Linked DNA regions of Homo sapiens: region 2 is linked to region 1. The links come from fine-mapping of genetic effects on gene expression. A gene starts in region 1. The other region holds a variant in brackets. All regions are shown on one strand. Distances are from middle to middle. Region 1 holds the start of TAC1 (tachykinin precursor 1). Region 2 holds the start of LOC124901704 (a long non-coding RNA gene).

Evidence for each region.
Region 2: its variant is fine-mapped to the expression of TAC1 in subcutaneous fat (GTEx, PIP 0.91).

What each region holds. Positions count from the first base shown.
Region 1 is chr7:97,723,180-97,740,092 of GRCh38, reverse strand. It overlaps TAC1 (tachykinin precursor 1), which reads right to left and starts at 8,007. Exons shown (of 7, transcript NM_003182.3): 1 at 7,898-8,007; 2 at 7,358-7,489; 3 at 6,274-6,370; 4 at 5,801-5,845; 5 at 5,244-5,267; 6 at 3,741-3,794; 7 at 1-219. The coding sequence starts at 7,480. The coding sequence ends at 173. RefSeq lists an enhancer at 7,649-8,848.
Region 2 is chr7:97,257,550-97,274,462 of GRCh38, reverse strand. LOC124901704 (a long non-coding RNA gene) reads left to right here and starts at 1,876. Exons shown (of 3, transcript XR_007060445.1): 1 at 1,876-2,006. RefSeq lists an enhancer at 4,294-4,814. The variant A/G (reference allele first, on the strand shown) is at 7,411.

The DNA.
Region 1 (16,913 bases):
ACACATGTTTACAATACATATTGGCACAATATGAAAAATAAACACTTTTTGAATTTTCAACCCCAAACAATTGTTATTAAATAAATAATTATTCCTCATAGTGCATGTCTTAATTTACCTGTCATTGCCCATTGACACAAATGAAGCTGAATAAATAATGTTAGGTAGTTTATTAACGTCTTCTTTCATAATTCTGCATTGCACTCCTTTCATAAGCCACTGAAAACAAAGAAGAGATAAAGTGTTTTTTAAGTGAATTCACTGAGGGAGTTACACAACTAAAGTTCAGGGCATATAGTAATTTATTTTAAACTCATAATGACATTTTCCCTCTACAGAAGTATTTCTAAGAATGTTATCTGCACATCTTCCAATCCTGCCTCAGTCTCTATTCTGATTGGAAATGATCTAACCACAGAACTCGGTTTCATTCATCATTCATCATATACTTGGTGCCCCCAAAGCATATTTCCACAATATATTGCAGTGTTGATTCTCAGCAGCTTTCTCAAGCAGTGGCAGATACCCATAGTGAATTCTAGAAAGGACAATGCCTAAAATAACCAGGAATACTAGTAGGATAAAAACCAAATGTGGGACTTTTATTCTAGCAGAGACCATGGGCCAAATCTAGAATACCATTTGTTCTTGTAAAGAGGTTTATAGGAATACAGACACACTCATTCATTTACATATTGTCTATGGCTGCTTTGGCCTAAAATAACAGATTTGGGTAGTTGCAACAGAGATTACATGGCTCACAAAGCCTAAAATATTTATAATCTGTTTCTTTTCAGGAAAAGTTTGCTGATCTTTGTTCAAGGGGCATCTAATTGTGTAGGGGTCTCTTCCTACCTTGTGGATACCTCCCAGTGATGGACTGCCCTCAAGACTAAAAACAGCCCATTTACCATAGGTAAGTCAGTTGAGCCATCTAAATACCATACTGTTTAACTTTTCACTAGCACCTTAATGGCCTGTGAAGCATTAATTATTGCTTCCAAAGGTATTTAACATATAGCTAGCAAGTAATTTAAATACATTGATTATCTGGACAAAAAAATGCCAAAATTGTATATTATATTATATTATATTTATTATATATAATTTCAAAGGGATCTGTAACCACAAAGGGGTAAAAATCAGACTGTTGCAATAAAAGTATTTTGGGATATTTTTCATCCTTAACGAATACCTTATAGACTTAGACGTATGGTATAGTGGAACTACTATGCTTTTTGAAATTCAGTATGGCCTGTATAAAATACTGAATGTAAACAGAAAGAGTAGAAAGATCTGTGAAGGATCTGTAGGAATAATAAGTGCTACTCTAAACAGTTTCCTCAGTGAGAAGATTTGCTGACAGAGAAGACAGGTAAAGGCACCAGTATTATCACTTCCCTCTTTTAATACTGGTCTTAAACACCCAGCTATCCTTTAAGTGCGGTTAACAATAAGCTGCATATTTTACATCAATTAAGTATGCACTTGTGAGGCAGAACAGTCTGAGCCAACACTGGACAGGCGTGAGGGAAGGAAACAGTTTATTTCTCATTCTGGTTTGATTATATTAGGAACAGGATGAATGGCCCAAGTTCAGTCTCTGACAAGCTTTAGGTAACATGACTCTATTCCTCAGAGAAATTAGATGAAAGCTAATGTAAACCAACTAAAGACAGACAGTGATTTAGCTGGAACATAATGTCCTCTTACATGGAAGCAGAGTTTCTTACCTGGTCTTTGAACCCTCTGAAGCCTGATATAAATTTTTGAGTGTATGAGCTGATGAGGGTTTCTCTGGGAAAGGGCATCTATCTAGATTTATCAGATTGTCAAAGGGGTCCCTGACCATGAGTGGGTAAAGATCAGAGGGCTATAGATTAAGGCTATGATAACCTTGCCTCAATGAGGTACATAAAAAGATCCCTGATTGACTGTGGATCATATCACATTTTTTTCCACATTTCACCTATTTATATTTCCTTAACTAAAATGGAGGAACAAAGATTTAGTTATAAATTGATCCTGATTCACTACAGTGATTTTTATCACTACTTAAAATTATGTTATTATTTTAAGTACATTTAATTGTATTTAATCTGTTCTAACTTGTACAATATCTACATTTGTAAAGTTAAGCATGTTCTGAAACCTATATCAATTCTGGAAATGGAAAGTTGATGACTAATATGATTATCAAGAAAACTACAATTAAGTGAGGACTAGTATGTATTGGTACAAATAAAAGCCATTGTGGTTTAAATTTATATTTCATTTCCAAAAGTGGGAAGATAATACATATTAATAAAACAATTACAAGTTTTTCATTAAGGCACATTGATAATTTCTTACACTTTTACACTTCGGCAGCCCAAAATGACTGGTGAGAAGATGCAAAGGTAGTGTCTAAATAGAAAGTGGGGACCCAATAAGAACACTAGGAAGTCCTGTGGACTTCACCAAGAACTTCAAATTCCAGATTTATTGGAAATTTTGTATCAAAAGGTCAATTATGAAACACTTAGAACTTTTCAATTATATGAATATATTCTCTGGCTTCTGCCGTAGCCCAGATTGTGTTAACTTTTTTTTTCTATTGCGCGTTTTGATTTTTGCCCCACAGAAAGTGGTTTTATTTAATGTACCCAAGTCTTACATTTCACAATAAAGAAAAAAATCTCCATTAAAAAACACTAGGATAATTATTTTTCCTAGGATCCAGATAATTAAGGATTAAGCCAGCACATCTTATAGATTGTCTAGAAACTGGAAATATTCTAAATGGGTAAGACAGCTGCTGATTACTTTATAATTAATAACGTATTTAGTATTTTAATTCTATTTTCACTGAAGGCAAAATAGAATTTGAATAGCTTTTCCAAGAAGCCCTAGAGGTAAGAGCTATAAGGTCTTAACAAAAAGTGAGCTTCTATTAAAATGATCTAGGGGTTATTTACATTGAAATCAGTGTGATGAATGAGTTAACTAATAATGGTTTTCAGATATATGTACGTGGTATTTACAAAGAAGATGGAAATTGAAGAGAAGGAAACCTGCAGCCTTTATATCATACGAAAAAGTTGTTCAGAATTAAAATGAGAATTGTGGCATCCTTTCTCTCTAAGGAGTTTATAGCCAGAACCAATTTATAACACTCAAGGATATTTAATTGTGTTCCTTTTTGAAAGTACTGGAATAAACCGTATCACTTTTGTCCTCTCCAACATCCATCAGGATGTTTAGATTTTGAATTTCTACAACTTCATAAAAAGTGATTAATTTGCATAAAGAATTTGTTTTGTGAATTTATTTTTGTATTGGAAGATCGCCAAATGTAATGTCTTGTAAAACTTTCAAATTACTTTGATAACAAGTGAAAATCACCCTCATTCTTCCCTGCACTCCCCACTCCCCCTTAGTTCAGTAAGGTTAAACACGGCTTATTTAACAGATCTATAGGAAAGAATATAGCACTAACCCAAAGATTCAGGTTGGTAATGATTAAATGGGGCAGACACTGGTAAGAATGGTGATTGGAGAGAAATAGACAGATACTGTGGTAGTATTAGCTTAACCAGCTATAAATCCATTTGTGGTTACAAGTACAACAATTAAATTTTTCCACCATAATACTCATTTTTATATCTACCACTCCTTTTTAATATTTTAAAACTATGTCTTAGAAAAAATAGAAATAGATTTGAGATACTGTCTATTTTCAGTCATAATTTCATACATACCAGAATTTAAAGCTCTTTTGCCCATTAGTCCAACAAAGGAATCTGTTTTATGTCCTGGAAAAATACATTTAGGGGTATTTTAATATGTATATCTTTGAGGAAACAAACTATTATAACCAGAACAAAGCAAGCTTCTGAATATATGTCTGTATAATAAATATCTATCTACTTCAAGTTTTGGTGAGACTGAAGAAATAAAGATTCCTTAAAAGTTTTATAAATTACACTAAAACAATACAATGAAACCACTTTTCTTAATTCTATATTTAATATTAGCAAGCACTCTCTATTCATATATTTTATCTGTTATGTAAGGGTCTAAAATATTTTATATAAAATATTGTTATTTGAGCTAGGTTTGATTTTTTAGGAAGTCAATTTCACATTTGTGTGAGAGTGAAATATCCAAGCATAATTCCTTGTGTTATTAATAAGTTGTACTTCTCAGCAAGTAGACCTTAATTAAACCAGATTCCTTTCCTTGATGATTATAATCTTCTAAAAGGTCACTGTTTTTATTTTATTGGATATTAAAAGATACTCCTTTCAGAAAAGTTTATTAGTTTTCACATGAACAGAGTACATTTTTTATTACATAGAATTTTTATATATAATTCTCTTCAAAGTCAAATCCTTAGAAAGTAAATATGAATACTATTTATTTTTCAAAGATGAACTCTTTGGAAAGGTTACTATTTTAATGCTAGTGAGAGAATTTCTCTTGGTTTTTATTTTAATAGTTGAGAATAGAGCTGCTACGTTAATGTGGCCTGCTCTGCCACCCAATGAACCAAATCCATGACAGGGTACAATAGGTGAGTGGACAATACGATGAAGATAGACCCTTTCCACTTCTTGTCAACTCCGGTTCCATTAACTGAGAAACAAATTTAATGACCTTCACATACCACAATTTTGCCATCTTTGCTGCCCTAAGAAATGTTTTACTGATCGAGTTTTCCCATTCAATTAGGGGATTAAAAAACTGCATCTCTACCGTCTTCATTTTTAGTATGGATTCTCTACTCATGTTCACTCACTCATTCCATTTAATTGGCTGCTGGATGACCCTAATAAATGACATCATTATTGGACCAAGCATACTAAAATGAGTTAGGAGATGCCTATAAATGCTTGTGGGGGTTTCGTGTTTGTTTGTTTGTTTGTTTACAGTGAAAGTAAGCTTAGGGGGTGGGTGGCTGGGAAGAAATATGTATGGTAGATTTCTAATCCTAGGATTGAAATTCTTCTCTAAAACTAACAATTGAAGGGACTTAAAAGACATTTTTTTCTTTTTTAATATAATGCATCTCTTTGCTAAGTACAATATGTCTAAACAACCATATTCTGGATGTAATATGAATCTCCCCCATTCTTATATTGTCTTCATTAAACATATTAAGCCCTAGAGTCATGACAGAAAATAAGGTAAGATAAATAAAGTGAAATTCAATATAATTTTACATTTAAATTTGATAAATGTCAAAATAATTTTGAACTTACTTTTGTGAGAGATCTGGCCATGTCCTAGAAGAAAGATAAAATTAGCAAACACATATAGATTTGTTTTTAAAGATGCTACATTATATCTTTTATAAAATAATTTGATTCTCAAAATATGTAACATTTTCTATCTATATATTATCCTGAGGAATAAAGCAGAACCATAAATGCTAAACAAATTATTAATCATAAAAACTAAATATTTAAACAAACAAATGGAATTTTTATTAAGTGCCTTCTATGGGATTCAAACCTAGGACTATGAGACTTCTGAGGCCTCTTATTAACTATAAGACTGTAACACATCCCACCTTCAAGGCTGGCCACCCACTGAGAGAGAGAGAGAAAGAGAGAGAGAGAGACTGAGAGAGAGTGACAGAGAGAGAGAGACAGAGAGAGTGACAGAGAGAGAGAGAAACCGAGAGAGAGTGCGCAAATCCATCTCTTTATTAAACAGGCATGACCCAGATCTTGTATTTCAGCCCATAAAAGATTTTATTTCACTTTCCTACATGTGCTTTCACAATAGTAAAATAAAGATTTATAGGAATGTTTACCATAAAGAGCCTTTAACAGGGCCACTTGTTTTTCAATTGAGGAATCTGACAAGAGACGAATTGTCATTAACTACATGTTCCACTGACCGTGCGATGAATTCAAGGAAACGATATTTCTATCCCAAGACAAATGTACTCTCACCTCAGGGAATGCTATAAAATCCTCTTCCACATGCACTTGGATCATCCGCAGTACTACCCCTGGAGGCCCGTGCCTTCCCTTTGTCAGTTTGGATCTTTAGTCAAGGGAGCGCTTCACTCGAATACAGTGAGGCATGCGAACCAGATCTTTCCCTCCCCCCGCGGGCCCGTGCGTGCCTTAGTGCGGTGTGGGCCAATGTCGCGCCTGGGGAATTACACCCCTCTTGGAGTGGAAATCTCTATTCAGAGCGAGAGACCCTGGGGTACTCCAGGAAGGAGTGAGCAGACAGGGCGGGCTGCCCAAGACACCTAGGGACGGTCGCCTATCTCACCAGCATCCCGTTTGCCCATTAATCCAAAGAACTGCTGAGGCTTGGGTCTCCGGGCGATTCTCTGCAGAAGATGCTCAAAGGGCTCCGGCAGTTCCTCCTGGGAGACAAAAGCACGGACAAAGGGCGTGTAAGGCAACCAGAGCGAGGCACCCAGCAACCCGAGCCCTTCCCCCCGCTGTACTCCGGCCCCGAGGCGTGGGGAGGCGGCCTTCCCCACGCTCGGGCTGAGCGGGGTCCCTCCCGAGGCGCTGCCTCTCTGCGCCCCTCCCCGCCGAACTCGCGTCCCGCCCCCCGCAAGCCTGCCAGGGCGAGTTAGCAGCTGGCTCGGCGTCTTCAAGCTTCGAGCGCTTTCCGCTCTTTCCTCCCAGCCCGGGGACCTTCCCTCATCTGCTGCGCCGCCACCTGACTTTGTCTTGTCTCGGTGCCGGCTTTGTAGAGTCCTCACCGCCCTAAATGCACACAGGTGTGTGGGATCTGGGGCTGGGGCTCCGGTGGGGAAGGGTGACAACGCTTTACAGACGACTTTCACCGTTTTTCCGAGGCGCGCTCCCCAGCGCCTGTAGCCTACGAGTTTCTAAAGGGAGACTTCAAGCTACATCCTCAGGTCCGCAAAACAAACGTGAAGGCAGGAAATTAACTTCCCTCCAGCCTCCGGCCCTCCAATCCCCCTGCAGCTCGCGCGTGTGCCCGCTGCTGCCCGCGACCCAGGCGCCCTCCTCTGCCCGTGCCCAGACGCTAGGGCAGTGCAGCTGGACCGGAGCCCCCGAAATCCCAGGTCCTGGGGGATGAAATCTTACGAGATTTCCCGCCTTGTGAGGATCTCGGGCTCATCCGGGAGGGCATCCCTACTGCAGGGAGTTCCTGGGCCGGACGGTGCAGCCCTCGGGAAGAAACTTGAATCGTGGGCACAAAATCCCGTGGGGAACCCGGGAAATAGTGCCCCTTTCCATCCTCTCGCACGCAACCGCTGCCTCTTTCCGTGGTGGCGGTGCGTGCCACGTTAACTAGGGTGCTGTTGCGTGGGAAGGTGACAGCTCCCGAGCCCAGGAAGAAGGGTGCGGGCCGTCCTGGGAAGGGGCCTCACCTTGATCTGGTCGCTGTCGTACCAGTCGGACCAGTAATTCAGATCATCATTGGCTCCTATTTCTTCTGCAAACAGCTGAGTGGAGACAAGAAAAAAGACTGCCAAGGCCACGAGGATTTTCATGTTGGATTTCTGGGAAGGGGTAGGAGGAGAAGACACCAAAGAGAGAAATAATGTATCTATTAGGGGTGGTTATCCAAGAGTTAAAGCAACAGAATTTTCTGCCCCACAACGGATGAACCAAGATCAAAAACATAAGGACTGAAGTCTCACCTGTACCGGTTAGGCGAGAGAATCGCGTCCCAAAGATTCTCCAACCCTCTTCTCCCTGAATCCCAACTCCCCCAGCCCCCTAACCCACCAACCCACACCTTCAAACCAGGAAACTCTGCAGGTGGAAGACAAAGAGGGGCGTTGGCGTTTGGGAAGCCAGTCTCCCCACTGTCCCTCGCCGCAGCGGCGCCCCCAGCGCGGCCACCTCGGACAGATGCGGGGCGGGGTGACCCGGGCAGCCGCGGCCAGCACCGCGCGGGCACTTACTGCGACGGACAGTCCCGCGGGGTGCTGAGTTTCTCTGGTTCCTCCGAGCGCACGCTGGTCGCTCCGCACTCTCGGTAGCTGCCGCCGGGAAGGAGGTCCGAGCGCGCTCTTTCGCCTGCTCAGTGCCTTGCGGTATTTATCCCAGCCTCCTTGAGCCTCCAGACCCACGTGACATTCTCCCCACGCGACTTTCTGCTCAATATTTAATTAGCCGCCTCCTCTCCTTTCGCTTGCGTGATTGAGAGTTTCCGAGACGGTAACTCGTCGATGCCCATAACATCTGGACCCAATTGGGTTCTAAATGACGCAATTTTAGGAAAATCGAGGTCTCGCCATCCAATCCGGAGCGGCCTGCTTCCGTCTGCAGATCTGACGCCCCCTCCCCTCTCCTTCGAAACTGGGTTTCATGACACCTGATATTACTCATCAAATTTGAGCAAAGTGACTCATTCCTTGGACTTCGGTAACTTTTCCGTCCCTCGAGACGTCAGGATAAGTTGCACTTTTCAGGATGGCCAAATAACTGTAGGCATTCAGACATTTCGTCGGAAATCAGGCTAAAAAAAGAGGACTACACTTGAGGGGAGATGCGGGGAAGCATTATTTTCCCTTCTATTTCTAGCTTAATAGTATTTAAGTGTTTCTGAGACACAGCATCGTTCTATAACCAGAACATCCCTCTTCTAAATCAACGCGAATACTGGCTTTTCCTTAGCATAACAAAAGGATGTTTAGTCCCATAGTATTTTAGAAGATGGAAGCAGATTTATTTTACATTTTGGAGAAAGGGGAATTTAAACATGACATTGTGTGTCAGACTTAGGATTTCTTTTGTTTCAAGCCGGGTAACTCCTCTTCCTTGCCACATCCAGGAGCAGGGGTTGAACAGGACGTTTTTTGCTTCTCTCCTACACTTTCTTGCTGAAGACTAGGAAACCAGCAACATAGTGTGTAGGATCCTCACCCTTGTCACTAAAGGGCTCTATAAATCATGTTTCTCCTTTCTATGAAAGTAAGTGTAGTGAAGATGCTAATGGGACAGTCATTAACAGCACAAAATATTAGACAAATAGCATTTGTACAGAAACCACACCTTTCCATGAGCCCTTGGTTGCCTGGCAGACACATTTCTTTGATCTCCAAATGAATTAAAAGATGTGACATCTTTGGTGGAGTAGTTTTCTCCCCTTTACATATGAAGTATTATATTTTTCAATTAATTATGATTTTTTAGTATATTGCATAAAAGAAATAAATTTTTGCAACTCAAACCAGAAGTATTTTTTTCTCTATGTTGTTCTTAAATAATCCTGAATTTGGAAATTCTCATGCATCTCTGATTTCTTTTGGCCTTAGCCTCACAATGTGAGCATTTTATTTTCCGTTTTCAGAACTTTTATATGGAAAATTATAAGCATATCCAAAAGTAGAGAGAAACATCCACTTCCAAGTTTCATCTACAACCCTTCCAGTTTCCTCTGCACTGAGATTATTTTGAAAAAAATCCCAGACAGTTAATCATTTCAACTGTAAATATTTCAGCATGTCTGTATAAAGGTAGGAATTAAAAAAAATAAAAACATATCCACGCCATTATCCCACCTAAAACAACATAAAATAATTCCTTACATTAAATATCCAGTTAGCATTCAAATATTTCTCATTGCTTCCTAATTCCGGCCCACACAGTTTACTACTTGAAATCAGAATTATAATGAAGTCCATACATTACAATTGGTTTTGTTAGTTCAGGCTGCTGTAAGAAAGTACCATGGTCTGGGTGACGTAAACAACAGAAATTTATTTCTCACAGTTTCGAAGGTTGGAAGTCTGAGATCGTGGTGTCAGCATGGTCTGGTTGTGTTTAAGGCCCTCTTCCAGGTTACAGACTGTCATATTGTCTCCTTGTTATATCCTCACATGGCAGGAAAGAATGAGAGAGCTCTTCAAAGTCCCTTTTATCGGGGCACTGATCTCATTCATAAGAGCTGCACCATCATGATCTAATTATCTTCCAAAGACCCCACTTCCTAATACCATAACCTTAGGGGTTACGATTTCAACACATGCATTTTGGAGGGACACGAACATTCCTTCTACTGCATGTTTCTTAAATCTCCCTGAATCTGTAATTCGCTCTCTCTTTCTCTCTCTATTGTAGTTTATTGATAAGACAGGTCAGGAGAGTGTACCGCATTCTGGACTTTGCTGATTGCCTTTTAACTTGTTTCTCTGTTTCGATTATTTCCTGTTAATTGGTAGTTGTATCTAGAAGTTTGATCCTCTGTACATTTTTTTCTTTTTCCTTTTCTTTTTCTTTTTTTTTTTTTTTGATGAGACTACTTCACATGTGTTGTGTTGTTCTGGTAGGAAGCACATGATATGTGGTTGTTTCTCCTTTTGAGTTGTTAGCAGCCATTGACTATCATTTTCTAGATCTATTAATTCATTAGTATTTTCAAAACAGTGCTATGTTGATTTTATCATTCATTATTTGTCTGGTAGGCAGACTTGTTTCTTTCATGTTTCTCAGCAACTAGTTATTCTAAAGCATTATTAATATAGGAAAGATGGGATAAATGCTTGATTATGTCTCTCTACCAATTTTGAAAATAATGAATTGGTAAATTAACACCTTTTAATAAGACCCACTTTAAAAAATTAGGATTATTATGACTTCCTGGATTTAAACACATTTGACATACAGTCATCACTCAGTATGCATAGGGGATTGGCTGTAGGACCTCCTGTAGGTATCAAAACCTGTGGATGCTCAAGTCCCTGATGCAAAATGGTGTGGTATTTGAATATAACCTATGCACATCGTCTCATATATTTTAAATAATCTCTAGATTACTTATGATACTTAATATAATATAAAGGCAGTGTAAATAGTTGTTATACTGTATTATGTGGGGAATAACACAAAGGGAAAAAGTCTGTATGTGTTTAGCACGGATGCATTTTTTTCTAAATATTTATGACCTATGTTTGGTTAAATCTATAGATGCAGAACCCATGGATACAGGGGGCCAACTATATTTCAATCCATGGCAGGCATTCTTCTAATTGAAGTTCAGACCTATTCTTGGCCTGCAGGTGACTCTTCAAAGTGACTCCTGAGACTTTATGCCAATAGGCTTTGATGGCTTTTTCTTGTTTTTGGTATGACAAAATGTTTCGGGTCAAAGTTATATACGTTTTGCTTCTGACCCGAAATCTGCCTTTAAGGGGCCCTAATTTTAGAATTGAAAATGACCATTAGAGATCATAAACTGGGCTTTATTTTTACACGTTGTTAGTGAGTTCTTCATTGCTTCAAGACCTTTTCAGCAGACAGAGCTGAGAACAATGTGTGTGTGTGTGTCTCTCTGTGTGTGTGTGTGTGTGTGTATCTATAATCATGAATGTATACCGACTTTCTTTTCAAATCAGGATCTCATAGAGTTTTTAATTAACCTTTTGCATCTCTTTTTCCATACTCCAAATGACATCAACATGATTATTCATTAGCTTTATCCCAATACATGGTGCCAATATGATCAACAATATCATTACTGGAAACAGATTAAGAGTTTTTGTTTGCAGTTTTGTTCTTTTTTAATCTTTAGAGCATATCACACCAGGTATGTTCGGTCATATTACTGTGTTATAAAGTCTCTTTACAAGTTCTTTGTATGGTTATGCTACCAACTCTTACACAGGTAGATTCATTTTCTCATTCTGCTCAAGTTATAGGGATCATTTTTTAAAAGTAAGTTTAGAATTATGTAAAATACATGGTTCTAAACTCAAATATTAAAAACATTATGTGGCCGGGCGTGATGGCTCACGCTTGTAATCCCAGCACTTTGGGAGGCCGGGGTGGGTGGATCACAAGGTGATGAGTTTGAGACCAGCCTGGCCAATACAGTGAAACCCCGTGTCTACTAAAAATACAAAAATTAGCTGGGCGTGATGGCGGGCGCCTGTAATCCCAGCTACTTGGGAGGCTGAGGCAGGTTAATTGCTTGAACGCGAGAGGTGGAGTTTGCAGCGAGCCAAGATGCCACTGCACTCAGCCTGGGCAACAGAGCTAGAATCTGTCTCAAAAACAAACAAACAAACAAAAAACATTATGTATTGAAAGAAGTGTACCTTCAGTCCCTATCTCTCTGCTCTCTTATGTCTAGTAACCATTTCTTTTTAGGTTTTTGGTTTAGGCTTATATTGCTATTGTTGTTATTTTAATATAAGAAACGATGTGATAATTTCCCCCTAAATCTTGTAAAATTCTATACCTGAAGTGGGACATTTTAGAAATTTTTTTAATTTCTCAGATACTAATGTGGTTTATGGTTTATGAGGTAACAAGACAGCTACTTTATAATATCTAAACTGCTAGTTCTGTATAACCAGTTGTATAATTTTATTCAGATGCTGTATGTTGTAAATGTGCCATAGTACATAAAATAGAGGTTATTTCACAGAATTGAGTAGTAAACAATAATGAGATAAAAGGTATATCCAAGAATACATTTCCCACATTCCCCACATCATTCATTAATTGCTAACTTAGGGATCCTACTAAGACATGCACGTTTTGCACACTTTCCCTTTGAACATTGTAGAGGTTGAGATATTTGCATTCTTTATTACCTGTTTTATTTCCTAGGATAAGTTTATGAAAAAATACATATTAATAAAGTACATATGTTTAATGCATGCTAAATTCATGATTAGTAGACTGGTGAACAAGTAATTCATTAATACCTCATTTTTTATGTTGCAAATTAAATTTGCAACATAAATTAAAAACCCGGACAAAAGTAAAAAAAAAATTACTATTGTCCATTTTCTCATCACTCAAAAGGAACCACTGTTAACATCTTGGTATACTGCTTATAATATTTACTTATTTATGTATAATTATTATTGTTTTTTGAGACAGAGTCTTGCTCTGTCTTTCAGGTTGGAGTGCAGTGGCATGATCTCAGCTCACTGCAATCTGTGCCTCCAGGGTTCAAGCAATTCTCCTCAGCCTCCCGAGTAGCTGGGATTACAGGCATCCACCAACATGCCTGGCAAATTTTTGTATTTTTAGTAGAGATGGGGCTTCACCATGTTGGCCAGGCTGGTCTAGAACTCCTGACTTCAAGTGATCCGCCCCCCTTGGCCTCCCAAAATGCTGGGATTACAGATGTGAGCCACCACGCCCAGCCTGCTTACAATTTTTAAAGGGAAAAAGTCACCTGATTGTTTTTATAAAAATATTTTATGCATTTCGTACAATGTATGCATTGTACTTTGTATGCATTTTATACAATTAGAAGGATAGAGCAATAGACAAATAAAAGTTATGAAAATAGGATAAGACCCTAGTAACTATTTTTAACAAAAGATAGTTATTTATATTTTATTTGATATCAGTAGAAGAAAAACAAAACTAAAGTGAAGAATGTTTGTTCACCACAGGATTTTTTTTCATAAAAGAACTGACTAGTGCTAAAAAAGCAGGGTTTATTCATTTGGGTATATGCCAAGAGGTTCATTGCAGCACTGTTGACAATAGCAAAGATATGCAATCAACCTAAATGGACATCAATGACAGATCGGATAAAGAAAATGTAGTACATACACACCATGGAATACTATGTAGCCATAGAAAAGAACAAGATCATGTCTTTTGTGGGAATCTGGATGGAGCTGGAGGTCATTATCCTTAGCAAACTAATGCAGGAACAGAAAACCAAATACCACAGATTCTCATTTATAAGAGGGAGCTAAATGATACAAACTTATGAACACAAAGAAGGAAATAACAGACACTGGTGTCTGCTTGAGGGGGGAGGGTGGGAGGAGGGAGAGGAGCAGAAAACTACTGGGTACAGGGCTTAATATGTGGGTGATGAAATAATAGGTACAACAAACCACCGTGACACGTGTTTACCTATGTAACAAACCTCCACATGTACTCTCAAACCTAAATAAAGTTAAAAAAAGCAAGGTTTAGAGATAAACATGTAGAGGCTAGTATTAATTTGTAACATTAAAAATATATATTTATATAATATCAATTCCCTAATTTTGAAAGATGAGGATGTTAGCACTCTTAAATTTCTTCCCACTTTCCCTTTCCCCTATTTCCCAATTTTTGCAGTTACATAATTAGTTTACATTGTTCAAGTTTATAACATTCACATTCAGTATTGCTACCATACTTTTATTAGTTGTCTACTTTCACTGTATGTTTAAATACATTCCTTGTTCATTACCAGTTCTTTTAATCTCACTTTGCCATTCTTAAATTTATTTTTAATCATCTTTTATTTGACTGGATGTCATTGTCAAGAAAATTTTTCTTCTCCAAGAAGAAATAATGTGTATTGCATTTCCTGAGTTCTTTCATGCTAGTGAATGTCTGTTAGTGGTTTCTATGCTCAAATGACATCTTGATTAATTATAATATTTTTAGATTAAATTTTCACAGAACTTTATGGACATTGCTTTATTGTCTTGTGGAATTGAGTGTTATTGATAATTCTGAAGTGATACAGTTTTTCCCTGCTTTTCTGTTTCAATATCTGAAGAATTTTTTCTTTATCCTTGACATTCAATAGTTCAGCTAAGAAATATTATTGAGCATACTACCTCTAATTTTCTTGGAGTATCATGAACTTTTTTTGTTTTGTATAAGTAGGGACTTGCTCTTTAATATATTAAATTATTATCCTTCATTTTAGAGAAATTCTATTGTATAATGTCTTTGAATATATCTTGAAGTGGAATTTTTACTTCAATAATATTATGAAAATTTTCTTTGGATTCTCATATATATAATACTATAATATATATTATATTTCATGTCTATAATATTCTCCCAAATTTGCTTTAATTCTTTGTCTTTTTTATCTGCATTCATTCAGATTATCTCAGTTCTTTTCTGCCAGCAACGACTTTTGTCTATTCTGTGCCTTGCATTTTCTAATTTAGTTATCATTTCCATAATCGTGTTGCATAGTCCAAAATTTGTTCTCTAGACTGGTCATTTCCTTTATCATCTCATTTAATTTTTAAATTATTCTATTAGTATGCTCTTATTTTATTGAACTAATGTTCTTAAGGCCTTCTTAGAGTGAAGCGGGGGAATTGCATTCTATTTCCTGAGTTGCATTTTCTTCTAGTTCAGTGGTAAAATGCATGAGTTTTGAGCAAACTCTGCCAATCTTTACCGGCTTAGCCATTTGCTAGCATGTAGTCTTGCATAAGTTACTCAAGCACTCTCTGCCTCAGTTTTCTAGTCTGTTAAATACAAAAATAAACATTATCTACCTCATAAGTTTTGCTATGGGGATTAAATGAGTAAATACATGTGAAACGTAAAGAACAGTACCTAAGGGCCAGGCGCGGTGGCTCACACCTGTAATCCCCACACTTTGGGAGGCCGAGGCAGGTGGATCACCCGAGGTCAGAAGTTCAAGACCAGCTTGGTCAACTCAGTGAAACCCTGTCTCTATGAAATATACAAAAATTAGCTGGGCATGGTGGTGGGCACCTGCAATCCCAGCTACTCAGGAGGCTGAGGCAGGAAAATCGCTTGAACCCAGGAGACAGAGGTTGCAGTGAGCCGAGATTAAGCCATTGCACTCCAGCCTGGGCAACAAAAGCAAAACTTCATCTCAAAAACAAACAAACAGACAAACAAACAAACAAAAAACAGTACCTAGCACATGCATTGAATGTTAACTATTATTCTTCTTCTAGATTATTATTCTAGATGGATATGTGTATGTGCACCCTCATGTTTGTGTGTGATACTTAATTTTTTATGTCACTTTGATTAGGCTATGATGCTGAATTATTTGATTATATACATCTACATGTTCTTGTGAAGTTTTTTTTTAGATGTTATTAATATTTCAATCAGTAGACTTTGCGGAAAGTCATTACCTTCCATGATGTGGGTGGGCTTCATCCAATCAGTTGAGGGTCTTAAGAGAAAAAGACTGAGGTCCCTTGAGGATGAAGGAATTCTGTTTCCAGACTGCCTTGGGACTTAAGACCTGAAGACATCAACTTCTTGCTGGAATTTTCAGCCTGCCAGACAGCTGTGTGCATTTTAGATTTGCCAGCCTCCACAATTTGTGAGCCAGTTTCTTAAAATCAATCCCTCTTTCTCCACACACATCCTGTTGGTTCTGTTTCTCTGGAAAACTCTGACTAATACAGTATCTAATATATTTGCATAGTCTCTGGGCCATTTTCTCCATCTTGATGTTGTTTGCATGGCTCTGGGCAGACAGAGTGGGAGTGACTACTTGTGTTCCAACAATATCTGAGATTTATTTCCCCTCGTCTGAGGGCTAAGAATTTTGTGTTCAGCTTTACTTTCTTAGCCTGAGGGAGTGACAGAGGGAGCACAGGACTTGACCAAGATGCCCTGCAGTCTGAATAACTTGTCTCTGCTCTTTCCTCTGAGATTTTTGTGCAATGCCTTGTTCCATGTTAATTCCCTGGTTGGAGAGTCTATACTTCTCCTGCAGGAGACCCCATTATAATTTGATCTCTGGGTGGCCTGGGAGCCTCCTTCCATTCTTAAAGAGTCAGCTCTAGAGTGCTCTTCCCTGGCGTCACTTGTCTCCATTGCATTTAGGAAGAAAATAATGATCTGCCTACTGAGTTTTCTTTTCTCTATGTGTCACATCATTGATAATTCTCAGAATTTTGTCAACTCAAAATAAAACCTCTGGAGGGTTATGGAGGGGTTTGAAGGAAAGGGGCTCTGTGGAGCCAGGCAGTAATGACCCTCTCTGCTTCACTCCAGCATTTTGTTTCTTTCACTGGTTACTATTTTTGAAGAGTATCGTATCAATTAGACGCGACTCTTATTTGTTTGGTTGGTGATTACAGATTTTAATTTTTCTTTGAATTAACAATTTTTACCATACTTTGCAGATATGGGGGGGGGTCCTAGAATAGTGCCAGGTTTATATTATCTGACTAGTAAATGTTTGTAAAATTGTTGGATTTCATCTAT
Region 2 (16,913 bases), 470 kb after region 1:
CTCTATACCCAGGTGCTCATTATGCATTAGGTTATAGAAACAGCGCCCCACAAGCTCAGCATGGCTACTGAGGCCTCAATACAGGATGGAACCAAACCTGGGGCCTCTGGTATATTCCACCTGAAGGAGTTGGCTTCCCTTGTCCCCAGTTTCTTGCCAGATGCCAGAGTACTGGGGAAAGTCATTCCTCCCCCTGACCTCTTGACTATCTGGAAAGCCCCTTAGGATAAACTGAGTGAACAGTAACAAGAGTTTGTAGACTATGCATGCATGTGGCACTCTTAACTATCATATGTGATGAGCTTAGTGGAATACTGCCACTTTCTATCCCTTAGCCGTCATGTCCCTAATAAAGAATGGGACCCAAAAAAACACATTTAGCCAAACCTAAGAGAGCTCTCTTAGTACTGGATGTCCTGGTCTCATCTTCACTTTCGTTATAAACCCTTGGGTCATTACCTAAAACTTGTACCTTTCAAAATTTAAAAAAAAAAAAAATCTGGGAATCTCTCGCCTCACAACACCCAAAAGTTTATTTTATCCAGGTCTTGGCCTATCTTTATAAATTTTCAATCTTGCCCCCATTCCACAAGGGCTGGAGGCCAGATGGAAGGCACATACTTTCCTGGGACTCATTAATAATAGATTTTCCTATAGGCCAGGCATTTGCTCATCTGATAGATAACCCATTTACATCTAAACTTCCACATGCTCAAAACAAACAAACAAACAAACAAACAAAAAACACCCTGTCAGATGCAGCTGCACACCATTCTGTTGATGGCCTTATCACTATTGGTTTGGGCATTTATACTGATTTGCAATCCAGAGGCCTACATCAACTTAAGTAGGTACTCACTTAAAAGGATACCCCAGTCCTACAATCCCACACAAGCTTGCAAGGGCCCAAAATAATGCTTCAGCTGTCATTGCCTAAGATGACATTGCAAGACCATCCCAAGACCTTATTGTTGGAGATGACTTTGCCCCCTGTGCTGGAGACTTCACCTCTTACACTAAAGTCTCCACTCAGCAACACCCATGGGCTGCCTGTCCTAAGGCACAAAATTGACACGTTTAAAATGTTCTTTCTGAACTCACTGTCTGCTTAGCCCGTGATCCTGGTATAGTCCTTGTTCTCTTCTAAAATACACCGCTACACTTCCATGCCTAAAGGAAAACCTGATAGAGGTTACTAAATTAATGATGATTATTGCTTTCCCCAGGAGGCACCTATCTCATATTAAACAACCCCTTGGCCCCCTGGGGAGAAGACTGACTACTCTGTGGTGCCTTCTCCTACTGTAACCCCATCCAGCTTTCTACCACAGCCTCTTGACTTGCATCTCCAACCACAACCACTCCTTCCCCTTGGCTAGACACAATACCACTAATATTTACATATACTTTGCTCAATTATTAGTTCATAACCAACAACATAACTGCCATACTGAATGCTTACTTTCTTGGGAATGATATTATTCTCCTTGCAGTCAATATCTTCACCACTCAAGCTACAACTGTCTTACATTTAAAATATCATGCCAGGGCACCCAGAGGTGGATTGTCATCAATTTGTTTAATAAAGTGCTGCCTCAGCACCCATTTTTAGGACTGCCATAAGTTATTTGAAGCCCAGTCATATACTGTCACCTTTGGCCCAGTTAAAACTTTCCCTCCCTGTGTGGTTGTTTGCAATACAGCCCGTTTTTTCCTCATCTCATTGAACCAAACCCAACATATTCCACAGGTGCTGCCGTGATAAAACTTAATGGTTAACACCAGAGTCTTGTAAACAAGTTCCCCAATTCACAAGTGTTTTCTTTAAAGTAAAAAATTCACAACCCCTGAGGAAAGTGTAAGGGCTAACACCCGTGCACCTTAATAAAGACCTGGCCCCACAGCTCTTCTCTCTGTCTCTTGCTCCCCACCCGTTGGTTGAGCTCCCTGCCACCTCTAGCCTTCCCGTCAGCCTCCTGTTGACACCCCTAACCTCTATGTGATCTGTAAGTAATAACCTTCTTGTGTTTCATGCATTTGGTTTTACTTCCTCATTTTGTCTCACCTGCCTGATACACCCGAATCTAACTTTCTCCTAGTCAGGGCTCTCCTAGAAAGTGGTTATCTTGGTTTATGGTCACTCTTGAGAGAAAGACCTCAAAATCAAATTAAAAGTAAACCGTAACAATAGAAATCATAACAGTGACTTTTGCTATTAAGAAGGCAAATTTGCTATTAATAAGATGTACTATAATAGGAAAAAGCTATAACCCATAGACACATCTAACCATAGACACACTCAAAGCGTATCAATCAGCCCTCTGGATGGAAGCGTCTCAGAAATTAATCGAGAGTAGTTTTTGGCTAACTGCCTATGCTGATTCTCTGACGTTACAGAGCAGTGCATTCTAAGGGGACAAAATGACTTTATCAATCAAGGAAGAGCATGAATAAAGCCATTTTCAGACAAGCAATGACAGAAAATTTAGCCTTTCCTCAAAAGTCATTTAAAGATGTATTCAAAATGCAGGAGGGAAGGAAGAAAGCACAGTTTAAGAAAACTGTATAGCTCCAACCCAAAACGGCCAGGAGCGGGGATTCCTAGGACGATGGTTATGCAGTGAGCCTAGAAAGCAGCAGGTACAGACAGGAGCCAGAGGCTGCTTCAGAAGGGAGTTTTCAGGGACAGGGCTACTACAAACAATTGAAAAAATGCGTGAAAAGTGAATCCACATGATCATGAAGTTGCAACATTCTCCCTGGTGTATGGATCAGTTGGGGATAGTAACCCTGGACCCCTGAATAAACCCTGCACTTATCTCCAAACTACTAGTTGGTATTATATTAACAATTAATTGTTTGGTTATTCCACTTTCAATTCATACATGATACGGAGTGGGTGTAGGATAGAGAGGGATGGGGAGACTACAGCTTCTCAATTTTAGCTCTTTGTATTATTTAATTTGATACCATTACATATTTTGATTTTTAGAAATTTAGGTTGATAGAAATCACTAGGTATAACAAAATTTTAATATCGTCTGTTTACAAAATCTTCACTCCGAAACTCTCACTGTATTTTTCCATTAGTTGTATTCGTGCTGCCTCAGTTTTCTGGGAAAAGCCATTTTACCTTCCAAAAGGAATTGTCTTTCGCTTTTGGACAGAAAATAAGGCACTAATTACCTAATCCCTTCCCAGGAACTAACTTCATATAAAGACTAAAATGCCAGTACGGTTTTGATCCTTGAACAATACAGGTGTTAAGGGAAATAATCCAACACACAGTCAAAAATCCATGTGAAACTTTTGAACTCAGTAATTCCAGTGATAGTCTCTGTAGTAGTAAGTCCCCAGCAGGTCAGAACTGGGATCTGGAAAGTATTTCTGGAGACCTAGGCTAGCTTCTACTCTTTTGCCTGCCCTATACTTTCCTAAGCACTGATTCCTGCTATTAAATCTCTTCCTGATTAGTAATTGAAAGAAGCCATCATTTTTCTGCAAAGAACCTTAACTCCAAAGTTGTATTTGGTTCATTCTCTTTCATTACACCCCAAGCTAAGCAGTAAATAAGTCCTGCCAGTTCTTCTGCCATAATTTTTGTGCCCAGCCACTCCTTTTCCTTTCCATATTTTTATAATGTAAAGGGAAGAGCAACCTTGGATCCTAGAATCAACTGGCGGCCTTGCTATTCCTAAGCTATGTTTCTTTGGAGAAATCACTTAATTTCTTGGAATATTCCACAGTTGTAAAAGGAGATTGTTGCCAGTTTATAAGATATTGTGAAAATTAGAGATACTATTTGATGCTCTGCAAAAATCATCTGGCCTAATTTTTGGTATTTAGCCTTAGCCATGCTATTATTATTAAACTCCTACCTGCTCTTCTTGTTCTTGGATCTTTCTCAGTCTAGCTCTGGAAAGAGAGTATGTCCCGAGTATGTTTTGAATAACCATGGAAATACAAAAGTAGCCCTTGACCTCAAGGAGGTTTCATTTTAAATAACAAAACTGAAGTTTTCTGAAAAGCATGACTCAGATTTGAAAACAGAAAAAGTGACCTGAGATTGGTTTTGGGGGTTTTAGACTAAGAACCTTTTTGGTGAAATCAATGGAGGAATTTTTAGTGTTGATGATCTCTCTGACCAACCAGTGATTGAATTATTTTCCCTCAGTGTCTGAGATAAAAAGATTAACTTCAAAACTCAAATTATATTTGCTTTTGGAAAGATGGAGTAAGTATATTTTTCCCTATTCCTCCTGATAAGTGCAACTGAAATCTCTGGAAACAGTGTAAGACAAACAAGAAAATGCTGAAAGGTAGAGAAAATAAGCTGGCCATTAGGGAATATGGGAATAAAGAACAACATGGTGATGAGTTATCTGGGTATTTTTCTTTGGCCTCAAATATTTCAGACTGGAATGAGATTACCATTTGAGTTGGGAGCCTGAGTAAAGCAGATTGTTTTCCCTAATGTGGGTGGGCCTCATCCAATTACTTGATAGTCTGACTAGAACAAAAGGGCTGACCTCTGAGTAAGAGAGGATGTTTTCCTGATTGATGGCCTTTGAAATGGAACATTGTGTTTTGTTGTGCTGTTTTCCTGGCTTTGAACTCAGCTGAAACATTGATTCTTCCTGAGTCTCAAGCTGGCTTTTGGCCTGGACTACATTAGTGGTTATCCTGAGTTCTCAGGTTTTGGGGGGACTAGATTATTGGGAATGAAGAAGGAAGAGAGTAAGGAAAAATATGGGTAAACACTAGGCTTTCCTTCTCCTCCTAAGTTTTCTAAATTATGTTTGGTTGTGGAAGAAAAAAGTATTGGCCAGGTGTGGTGGCTCACGCCTGTAATCCGTTTATTTTACTAATAACTTCCCTACCTACCCCCACATCTACTCCTTGACACTCAAAACAACCTTCCCCTCCCCACCATGGATAACTGATACTTGACTTTTGTGGTAATAATTTTCTTGCTTTTCTCTACACTTTTCCCACCTAAATATGAGCTGCTATACACTATAGCTAGGCTTTCCAGATTTTCAGTGAGATTATTCTTAATCTCAATTATGTAAAGAATAATTTCATTTATGTAAAGATTAAACACCTGGAAAGCTAAGCTACAGTGTTTAGCAGTTCATACTTAGATGGGAAAAGTATAGAGAAAAACAAAATTATTACAATTTTATTACAATGTTGCTTACATGGATAAGTTCTCTATTTGTAATTTCTGAGCTCATAGTGCACCCGTCACCCAAGCGGTGAACATTTTACGTGATATTTAGTCTTTTATCCCTCACCCTCTCCCAACCTTCCCCCGCAAGTCCCCAAAGTCCATTGCATTCTTATGCCTTTGCATTCTCATAACTTACCTCCCACTTATATGTGACAACATAAGACATTTGGTTTCCCATTCCTGAGTTACTTCACTTAGAATAATTGTTGTTCATTTTTATTGCTTGACAGTATTTCATTGCATGTCTATTCCTCAATTTATTTCGTTTTATAATTAACATAATTCTATATGTTTATAGCATAAAATATGATATTTTGATATATGTATACATTGCGGAATGTCTAAACACCTTACTAATACTTTTTTAATCTTGCTAGTTATTACGGTAAAGGGATCCCCCAAGGGACACCATCATGACATAGCAATTGTAAATCCTAGGTTATATCCTGGAGTTTTTAAATGGTGCATCTACTCTCCACTCTTAGAAAGGTAGGTGATTTCCCAATTACTCTTTTCCAGGGGTCTTCTCCCCTCTCATTATCTTCATTTTCCACTTCCATCCACCTTCCAAAGACCACCAAATTCAATGTGGCATTCCCATTTGGCATTCTTGTTGTCCGAAAGAGGAAACCCTAGGTTATGCGTGGAGAAAATGAGTGTAGCCTGGAGACAGTGGCAGATTATTTCTCTCTCATGGCCCTCTTAGATTTTAACATGCCTCCCCCATGACTCCCTGCCAAGACCCTTTTATTTGCAAAGGTACCTCTATGGTCTCAGCCTCCAGACTTTGGATCACTTCATCAACTTAGAAACACTGGGGATTCTGTAGAAGTAGAGCTATAAAAGCCCTTTGAAGTCTAGAAAGAGTTTTCCATAATTCAGGCAGAGTATTCTTACTGGTTCCTACAGTAACGTTTCAAATGATGAAGAATGTTTCCACTGACCTTTCCTAGGCAACATGCATGCTAATAGTTCCAGTAGGAAATGTCTTTGCATGGCTTGGTACACTTAACAGGTGATTTACCAATGGTAAGAACAGAAGCAACAGACTTAATCTGGAAAATAATTTTAGTTGCAAAATGAGTAATAGTTCTTTTTCACAAATTAACTTTTATTGGCACTGAACTGGTACCAATACTGTATTTCATGGGAAATAAAGAACTCTGAGTAAATTTTTGAGCTCCTTATCTGTGAGCCACTGACCCACATTTCCTCCTTGAGTACACATACCCAAACCTGACCACTTATCTATACGTTTCCTTTCAAAAGAGTGCTGTGGGCCACTGCGCTTTCTAATAATAAAACTATTACACACTTCTTGTAATAATTTAGCTATATGAAAGTATGTGATATAAAATTAACTCTTGATTTTAATTAATCTTTCTATGCTTACAGGAAATATGTATATACACATATAAGGGTCCTTATATTTCTATTTTAATTTAAAAATCCAGACTATACATATTGTCCTAAATTTTTTCATATAACATATAGTAGACATTTTTCCAAATCAATCCTTTTTTGACCACATATCATAAATCACATATGCCACATATCATCTGAGTTTCTTATAGTGGAGAGGAACCCTCACATTGCCAGAAGCAGATAGAGCAGGTCTCCAGATAGCATGTGAGGACTACCATGTGCCTGTCAGAAATCCACACATTCGGCCAGGCGCGGTGGCTCACACTTGTAATCCCAGCACTCTGGGAGGCCGAGGCGGGCAGATCACGAAGTCAGGAGATCGAGACCACGGTGAAACCCCATCTCTACTAAAAATACAAAAAAAATTAGCCTGGTGTGGTGGCGGGTGCCTGTAGTCCCAGCTACTCGGAGAGGCTGAGGCAGGAGAATGGCGTGAACCCGGCAGGCGGAGCTTGCACTGAGCCGCGATTGCGCCACCGCTCTCCAGCCTGGGCGACAGAGAGAGACTCCGTCTCAATAAAAAATAAAAAGAAATAAAAAGAAATCCACACATTCATGATTAACATTTTCACATATACCTAGTCGTCTGTTTTTGGTGATAATGAAATAAAACCCCCCTCAACTAGAGCTCTTAATTGCTTGAGAGTAGAGTTGAGGATAAGGAGAAAATACTGGGGCTCTAAAAAGGGGAACCAACTTACAACTCTTAAATTATAATCAAACTAGTGGCCCCAATGTATTGAGTATTTACT[A/G]TGACATAAGCATTGTGGTCAACAATTCACATACATTCTCACAACAACTCTATGAAATGGCTGCTATTTTCCCATTTACAGGCAGGGGGCTGGGACATTGAGAGGTAACTTGCTCGAGGTTATCTGGCTGGTAACTGATTACATTTTCAATTTTTTTTTTCTGATAAAAAAATATAATAGTACAAAACAATTTACAATAGAAGATAAATACCAATTCTGCCCACCCAAACGTCAGTTCTGTTATATGTCAGGGATAACTTCTTTTAACTATTTCTGGTTTTATATTTTCTGACGGTTACATAGCAATAAGTTATGATTTAACTCTGTATTTTGAATTAACACCTTTGGGCATTGTCTACTGACTCCTAACTATGAAAGATGGGAATTTAAGTCCTTATGTTACCCCCCAAACTGCCCAACTCTACTCTACATTTTTGACATTTATATTATCTTCATCTTACTGTATACTTTTATGATATGGAACATACATAATCAATGCTTATGACTTTTATTAAAATGTTTCAAAAAACATTCAAGTAGAAAGAAAAAAGATAATAGCCAGTAGAGTTTCTACTCCGAGATGCTTAACTATGAACATCAATTCTCATTGATATAGAACCTCAGATATTTAAATTATGGTTAAGAAAAATGTACTGTATACTTCCAAATAGCTAGAAGAGAATAATTGTAATGCTCCCAACATAAAAAGATGTTTGAGCTGAGGTGATGGATACCTCAATTACCCTGATTTGATCATTACATATTGCATGCAAGTATCAAAATACCACCTTTACCCCTAAAATTTTAGTGTACAACTATTATAGATGAGTAAAAAACTTTTTTTAAGAAAAGTTTTCATCTACCAGCAATGACTAAAACTCTAAAAGAAAGTAGAATTTAAAACTTGAAAGTAAAAAAAAAATCAGATATAGAAGTGTTTAGATAAATTGGATATCACATGTGAAATTCTAGAGTAGATGCTGAGTCTTTTTGAGATTTTTGCTTCCCCATTCCACTTCTCCTCAATTGATCAATGTAAACAGTTTCATGCATGTGTTTTCACACCTTAGATGGTGGTTTTAACATCAATGATGTATATAAATGTAGACCTATGCTTTGGTGGTGGGGAGGAGACTGTCATTGCTTTTTTTTTTTTCCATGTGATAATCAATCATATACATTCCAGAGTCTTGCTTTTTGTCACTCAGCTATACATGATGGAAATCTCTTCAAGTCTACTGTTAGAATTCAAGCTGATTATGTGTTTATTTTAATAAATATTAAGTTCCTTTCCAAAAGGCTATAACACTTCCTATTTTCATTAGCAATATGAGTACCTTCTTCGCCACTTTCCCCAGTTAACTGCAAGCTCCATAAGGACTGAGGTTTTTTTTTTTTTTTTTTTTTTTTGAGACGGAGTCTCGCTCTGTCGCCCAGGCTGGAGTGCAGTGGCGGGATCTCGGCTCACTGCAAGCTCCGCCTCCCGGGTTCACGCCATTCTCCTGCCTCAGCCTCCCAAGTAGCTGGGACTACAGGCGCCCGCCACTACGCCCGGCTAATTTTTTGTATTTTTAGTAGAGACGGGGTTTCACCGTTTTAGCCGGGATGGTCTCGATCAAGGACTGAGGTTTTTGTCTCTTGTTCACTGCTGTATCCTCAACACCTGGAATCATGCCTGGCTCATGTAAGGCACTTAATAAATATGTGTTAAATAGAAGAATGCATGAATAAAGAAATGCCAGAACTAGGTTCTCATTCTTGTTAATTTTTGCCATTGTGATGAACAAGAAGTGATACATGTATATTACTTTAATTTGCATTTTCCTGCTTTTTAGGGAGGTGAAACATCTCATGTTTATTAACCTCTGGGTTTTCTCTTATGATTAATTGCTTTTTCATAGCACTTGTTCACTTCTCCATTGGGTTATCTTTCTCATATTGATTTACAGCAGCTTTTTGTAAATTATGTCTACTAACCTCTTTTTCCATCATATATATTACAAATATTTTTTCACAATTGGCATTTGACTGTGGGTGTGGTGTTTCTTACCACACAAAAAGTATTAAATTTTTCTATAGTCAAGTATTTCCATTTCTTCCTTTTGGGTGTATTGGTAGCCAGGCCCAGTGGCATGCACTTGTAGTACCTCCCAGCTACTCAGGAGGCTAAGGCAGAAGGATTGTTTGAGCCAGGAGTTTGAGATTGTAGTACACAATGATGGTACTTATGCATAGCCACTGCATTCCAGCCTGGGCAACACAGTGAGACCCCCATCTCCTAAAAAATGATCAAAATGCAAACATACAAATTTTTTTTTTTTTTTGAGACAGAGTCTCTCTCTGTCACCCAGGCTGGAGTGCAGTGGCACAATCTCGGCTCACTGTAAGCTCTGTCTCCTGGGTTCATGCCATTCTCCTGCCTCAGCCTCCCGAGTAGCTGGGACTACAGGCACCCGCCACCACGCCTGGCTAATTTTTTTTCTATTTTTTAGTAGAGACGGGTTTTCACCATGTTAGCCAGGATGGTCTCGATATCCTGAACTCGTGATTCACCTGCTTCGGCCTCCCAAAGTGCTGGGATTACAGGCATGAGCCACTGTGCCTGGCCCAAACATGTAAAATTTTAAAAACTACCTAGTTCCTATTTTATGCTTACAGTCTCTGAAATTTTTTCCAGATTTATATTCTGTTTTAGTAAGTTTATTTTTACATGTCCTTATTTAAACTGTGTGTGTTCCAATAAAACTTTGTTTGTAAAAACAGGCAGTGGGCCAGATTTGGCTCACGGGCCATAGTGAACTCTTATTAGAACGCATCAGGGTGATAAAAATTGCAGGGAGGAGCCAAGATGGCTGAACAAGAATAGCTCCGGTCTACAGCTCCCAGCGTGAGCGACACAGAAGACGGATGATTTCTGCATTTCCATCTGAGATACCGGGTTCATCTCACTAGGGAGTGCCAGACAGTGAGCACAGGACAGTGGGTGCAGTGCACCGTGCGCGAGCCAAAGCAGGGAGAGGCATTGCCTCACTCGGGAAGCGCAAGGGGTCAGAGTTCCCTTTCCTAGTGGAAGAAAGGGGTCACAGACGGCACCTGGAAAATCAGGTCACTCCCACCCTAATACTACGCGTTTCCAATGGGCTTAAAAACCGGCTCACCAGGAGATTATATCCCACACCTGGCTCAGAGGGTCCTAAGCCCACAGACTCTCGCTGATTGCTAGCACAGCAGTCTGAGATCAAACTGTAAGGTGGCAGCGAGGCTGGGGGAGGGGGCGGGGCACCCGCCATTGCCCAGGCTTGCTTAGATAAACAAAGCAGCCGGGAAACTCGAACTGGGTGGAGCCCACCACAGCTCAAGGAGGCCTACCTGCCTCTGTAGGCTCCACCTCTGGGGGCAGGGCACAGACAAACAAAAAGACAGCAGTAACCTCTGCAGACTTAAACGTCCCTGTCTGACAGCTTTGAAGAGAGCAGTGGTTCTCCCAGCACGCAGCTGGAGATCTGAGAACGGGCAGACTGCCTCCTCAAGTGGGTCCCTGACCCCTGACCCCCAAGCAGCCTAACTGGGAGGCACCCCCCAGTAGGGGCAGACTGACAACTCACATGGCCGGGTACTCCTCTGAGACAAAACTTCCAGAGGAACGATCAGACAGCAGCATTCGCGGTTCACGAAAATCCACTGTTCTGCAGACACTGCTGCTGATACCCAGGCAAACAGGGTCTGGAGTGGACCTCTAGCAAACTCCAACAGACCTGCAGCTGAGGGTCCTGTCTGTTAGAAGGAAAACTAACAAACAGAAAGGACATCCACACCAAAAACCCATCTGTACATCACCATCATCAAAGACCAAAAGTAGATAAAACCACAAAGATGGGGAAATGACAGAGCAGAAAAACTGGAAACCCTAAAAAGCAGAGCGCCTCTCCTCCTCCAAAGGAACGCAGTTCCTCACCAGCAACAGAACAAAGCTAGACGGAGAATGACTTTGACGAGTTGAGAGAAGAAGGCTTCAGACGATTAAACTACTCCGAGCTACAGGAGGAAATTCAAACCAAAGGCAAAGAAGTTAAAAACTTTGAAAAAAATTTAGACAAATGTATAACTAGAATAACCAAGACAGAGAAGTGCTTAAAGGAGCTGATGGAGCTGAAAACCAAGGCTCGAGAACTATGTGAAGAATGCAGAAGCCTCAGGAGCTGATGCGATCAACTGGAAGAAAGGGTATCAGTGATGGAAGATGAAATGAATGAAATGAAGCAAGAAGGGAAGTTTAGAGAAAAAAGAATAAAAAGAAACGAATAAAGCCTCCAAGAAATATGGGACTATGTGAACAGACCAAATCCAAGTCTGATTGGTGTACATGAAAGTGATGGGGAGAGTGGAACCAAGTTGGAAAACACTCTGCAGGATATTATCCAGGAGAACTTCCCCAATCTAGCAAGGCAGGCCAACATTCAGATTCAGGAAATACAGAGAACACCACAAAGGTAGTCCTCGAGAAGAGCAACTCCAAGACACATAATTGTCAGATTCATCAAAGTTGAAATGAAGGAAAAAATGTTAAGGGCAGCCAGAGAGAAAGGTTGGGTTACCCACAAAGGGAAGCCCATCAGACTAACAGCGGATCTCCCGGCAGAAACTCTACAAGCCAGAAGAGAGTAGGGGCCAATATTCAACATTCTTAAAAGAATTTTCAACCCAGAATTTCATATCCAGCCAAACTAAGCTTCCTAAGTGAAGGAGAAATAAAATACTTTGCAGACAAGCAAATGCTGAGAGATTTTGTCACCACCAGGCCTGCCCTACAATAGCTCCTGAAGGAAGCACTAAACATGGAAAGGAACAATTGGTACCAGCCACTGCAAAATCATGCCAAATTGTAAAGACCATCGAGGCTAGGAAGAAACTGCATCAACTAACGAGCAAAATAACCAGCTAACATCATAATGACAGGATCAAATTCACACCTAACAATATTAACTTTAAATGTAAATGGACTAAATGCTCCAATTAAAAGACACAGACTGGCAAATTGGATAAAGAGTCAAGACCCATCAGTGTGCTGTATTCAGGAAACCCATCTCACGTGCAGAGACACACACAGGCTCAAGATAAAAGGATGGAGGAAGAACTACCAAGCAAATGGAAAACAAAAAAAGGCAGGGGTTGCAGTCCTAGTCTCTGATAAAACAGACTTTAAACCAACAAAGATCAAAAGAGACAAAGAAGGCCATTACATAATGGTAAAGGGATCAATTCAACAGGAAGAGCTAACTATCCTAAATATATATGCACCCAATACAGGAGCACCCAGATTCATAAAGCAAGTCCTGAGTGACCTACAAAGAGACTTAACTCCCACACAATAATAATGGGAGACTTTAACACCCCACTGTCAACATTAGACAGAGCAACGAGACAGAAAGTTAACAAGGATACCCAGGAATTGAACTCATGCTCTGCACCAAGTGGACCTAATAGACATCTACAAAACTCTCCACCCCAAATCAACAGAATATACATTTTTTTCAGCACCACACCACACCTATTCCAAAATTGACCACATAGTTGGAAGTAAAGCTCTCCTCAGCAAATGTAAAAGAACAGAGATTATAACCAACTGTCTCTCAGACCACAGTGAAATCAAACTATAACTCAGGATTAAGAAACTCACTCAAAACCGGTCAACTACATGGAAACTGAACAACCTGCTCCTGAATGACTACTGGGTACATAATGAAATGAAGGCAGAAATAAAGATGTTCTTTGAAACCAATGAGAACAAAGACACAACATACCAGAATCTCTGGGACACATTCAAAGCAGTGTGTAGAGGGAAATTTATAGCACTAAATGCCCACAAGAGAAAGCAGGAAAGATCCAAAATTGACACCCTAACATCACAATTAAAAGAACTAGAGAAGCAAGAGCAAACACATTCAAAAGCTAGCAGAAGGCAAGAAATAACTAAAATCAGAGCAGAACCGAAGGAAATACAGACACAAAAAACCCTTCAAAAAATTAATGAATCCAGGAGCTTGTTTTTTAAAAGGATCAACAAAATTGATAGACCGCTAGCAAGACTAATAAAGAAGAAAAGAGAGAAGAATCAAATCGATGCAATAAAAAATGATAAAGGGGATATCACCGCCAATCCCACAGAATTACAAACTACCATCAGAGAATACTACAAACACCTCTATGCAAATAAACTAGAAAATCTAGAAGAAATGGATAAATTCCTGGACACATACACCCTCCCAAGAGTAAACCAGGAAGAAGTTGAATCTCTGAATACACCAATAACAGGCCCTGAAATTGTGGCAATAATCAATAGCTTACTAACCAAAAAGGGTCCAGGACCAGATGGATTCACAGCCAAATTCTACCAGAGGTAGAAGGAGGAACTGGTACCATTCCTTCTGAAACTATTCCAATCAATAGAAAAAGAGGGAATCCTCCCTAACTCATTTTATGAGGCCAGCATCATCCTGATACCAAAGCCTGGCAAAGACACAACCAAAAAAGAGAATTTTAGATCAATATCCTTGATGAACATTGATGCAAAAATCCTCAATAAAATACTGGCAAACTGAGTCCAGCAGCACATCAAAAAGCTTATCCACCATGATCAAGTGGGCTTCATCCCTGGGATGCAAGGCTGGTTCAATATATGCAAATCAATAAATGTAATCCAGCATATAAACAGAACCAAAGACAAAAACCACACGATTATCTCAATAGATGTGGAAAAGGCATTTGACAAAATTCAACAACCCTTCATGCTAAAAACTCTCAATAAATTAGGTATTGATGGGACGTATCTCAAAATAATAAGAGCTATCTATGACAAACCCACAGTCAATATCATACTGAATGGGCAAAAACTGGAAGCATTCCCTTTGAAAACTGGCACAAGACAGGGATGCCCTCTCTCACAACTCCTATTCAACATAGTGTTGGAAGTTCTGGCCAGGGCAATTAAGCAGGAGAAGGAAATAAAGGGTATTCAATGAGGAAAAGAGGAAGTCAAATTGTCCCTGTTTGCAGATGACATCATTGTATATCTAGAAAACCCCATTGTCTCAGCCCAAAATCTCCATAAGCTGATAAGGAACTTCAGCAAAGTCTCAGGATACAAAATCAATATAGAAAAATCACAAGCATTCTTATACACCAATAACAGACAAACAGAGAGCCAAATCATGAGTGAACTCCTATTCACAATTGCTCCAAAGAGAATAAAATACCTAGGAATCCAACTTACAAGGGACGTGAAGGACCTCTTCAAGGAGAACTGCAAACCACTGCTCAGTGAAATAAAAGAGGATATGAAGAAATGGAAGAACATTCCATGCTCATGGGTAGGAAGAATCAATATCGTGAAAATGGCCCTACTGCCCAAGGTAATTTATAGATTCAGTGCCATCCCCATCAATGACTTTCTTCACAGAATTGGAAAAAACTACTTTAAAGTTCATATGGAACCAAAAAAGAGCCTGCATCACTAAGGCAATCCTAAGCCAAAATAACAAAGCTGGAGGCATCACACTACCTGACTTCAAACTATACTACAAGGCTACAGTAACCAAAACAGCATGGTATTAGTACCAAAACAGAGATATAGATCAATGGAACAGAACAGAGCCCTCAGAAATAATGCTGCATATCTACAACTATCTGATCTTTGACAAACCTGAGAAAAACAAGAAATGGGGAAAGGATTCCCTATTTAATAAATGGTGCTGGGAAAACTGGCTAGCCATATGTAGAAAGCTGAAACTGGATCCCTTCCTTACACCTTATACAAAAATTAATTCAGGATGGATTAAAGACTTAAACGTTAGACCTAAAACCATAAAAACCCTAGAAGAAAACCTAGGCATTACCATTCAGGACATAGGCATGGGCAAGGACTTCATGTCTGAAACACCAAAAGCAATGGCAACAAAAGCTAAAATTGACAAATGAGATCTAATTAAACTAAAGAGCTTCTGCACAGCAAAAGAAACTACCATCAGAGTGAACAGGCAACCTACAAAATGGGAGAAAATTTTCACAACCTACTCATCTGACAAAGAGCTAATATCCAGGATCTACAAAGAACTCAAACAAATTTACAGGAAAAAAACAACCCCATCAAAAAGTGGGCGAAGGACATGAACAGATACTTCTCAAAAGAAGATATTTATGCAGCCAAAAAACACATGAAAAAATGCTCACCGTCACTGGCCGTCAGAGAAATGCAAATCAAAACCACAATGAGATACCATCTCACACCAGTTAGAATGGCAATCATTAAAAAGTCAGGAAACAACAGGTGCTGGAGAGGATGTGGAGAAATAGGAACACTTTTACACTGTTGGTGGGACTGTAAACTAGTTCAACCATTGTGGAAGTCAGTGTGGTGATTCCTCAGGGATCTAGAACTAGAAATACCATTTGACCCAGCCATCCCATTACTGGGTATATACCCAAAGGACTATAAATAATGCTGCTATAAAGACACATGCACACGTATGTTTATTGCGGCACTATTCACAATAGCAAAGACTTGGAACCAACCCAAATGTCCAACAATGATAGACTGGATTAAGAAAATGTGGCATATATACACCATGGAATACTATGCAGCCATAAAAAAGGATGAGTTCATGTCCTTTGTAGGGACATGGAAGAAATTGGAAATCATCATTCTCAGTAAACTATCGCAAGGACAAAAAACCAAACACTCCATGTTCTTACTCTTAGGTGGGAAATGAACAATGAGAACACATGGACACAGGAAGGGGAACATCACACTCTGGGGACTGTTGTGGGGTGGGGGGAGGGGGGAGGGATAGCATTAGGAGATATACCTAATGCTAAATGACGAGTTAATGGGTACAGCACACCAGCATGGCACATGTATACATATGTAACTAACCTGTACATTGTGCACATATACCCTAAAACTTAAAGTATAATAATAATAATAATAAATTGAATAGGGAATAAAAACAAAAACAAAACAAAACAAAAGAACCCAGGTAAAGGTGGAAACCCATCTGCCATTGTTTTTTACATGGGACTCTCCTAAAGCATAATTCCTTATGTAAGTGCATTGGGCACACTCAGGCCACTCGGAGGAGGCAGGAAGTAGGATGCACAGGAGCCTCAAGCACTGGCTTCACCTGCACCAGCCATGTGGCTGAAAGCAATTATTTACTGCTCATGCCTTAGCTTCTCATCTGTGAAATATTTGGGAATATAGTTTGAAATAAGTCACCCAACTTAATTTTTTCAAGTAGATAGCCATTGCTATCAATAAAGTTTATTAAACTATCCTTTTCATACTAAATTAAACTATTACCTGTCATATATTAATTTTCTAATTACTCTGCAATGTATTATGATAGCCTCTATTTTGTCTCATTCACCTAAATATATTTCTCTGGCTAATATGCTATTTCAATTGTGTGGCTCTATTTAATAAATTTCCCCCTCACAGCTTTTATTTT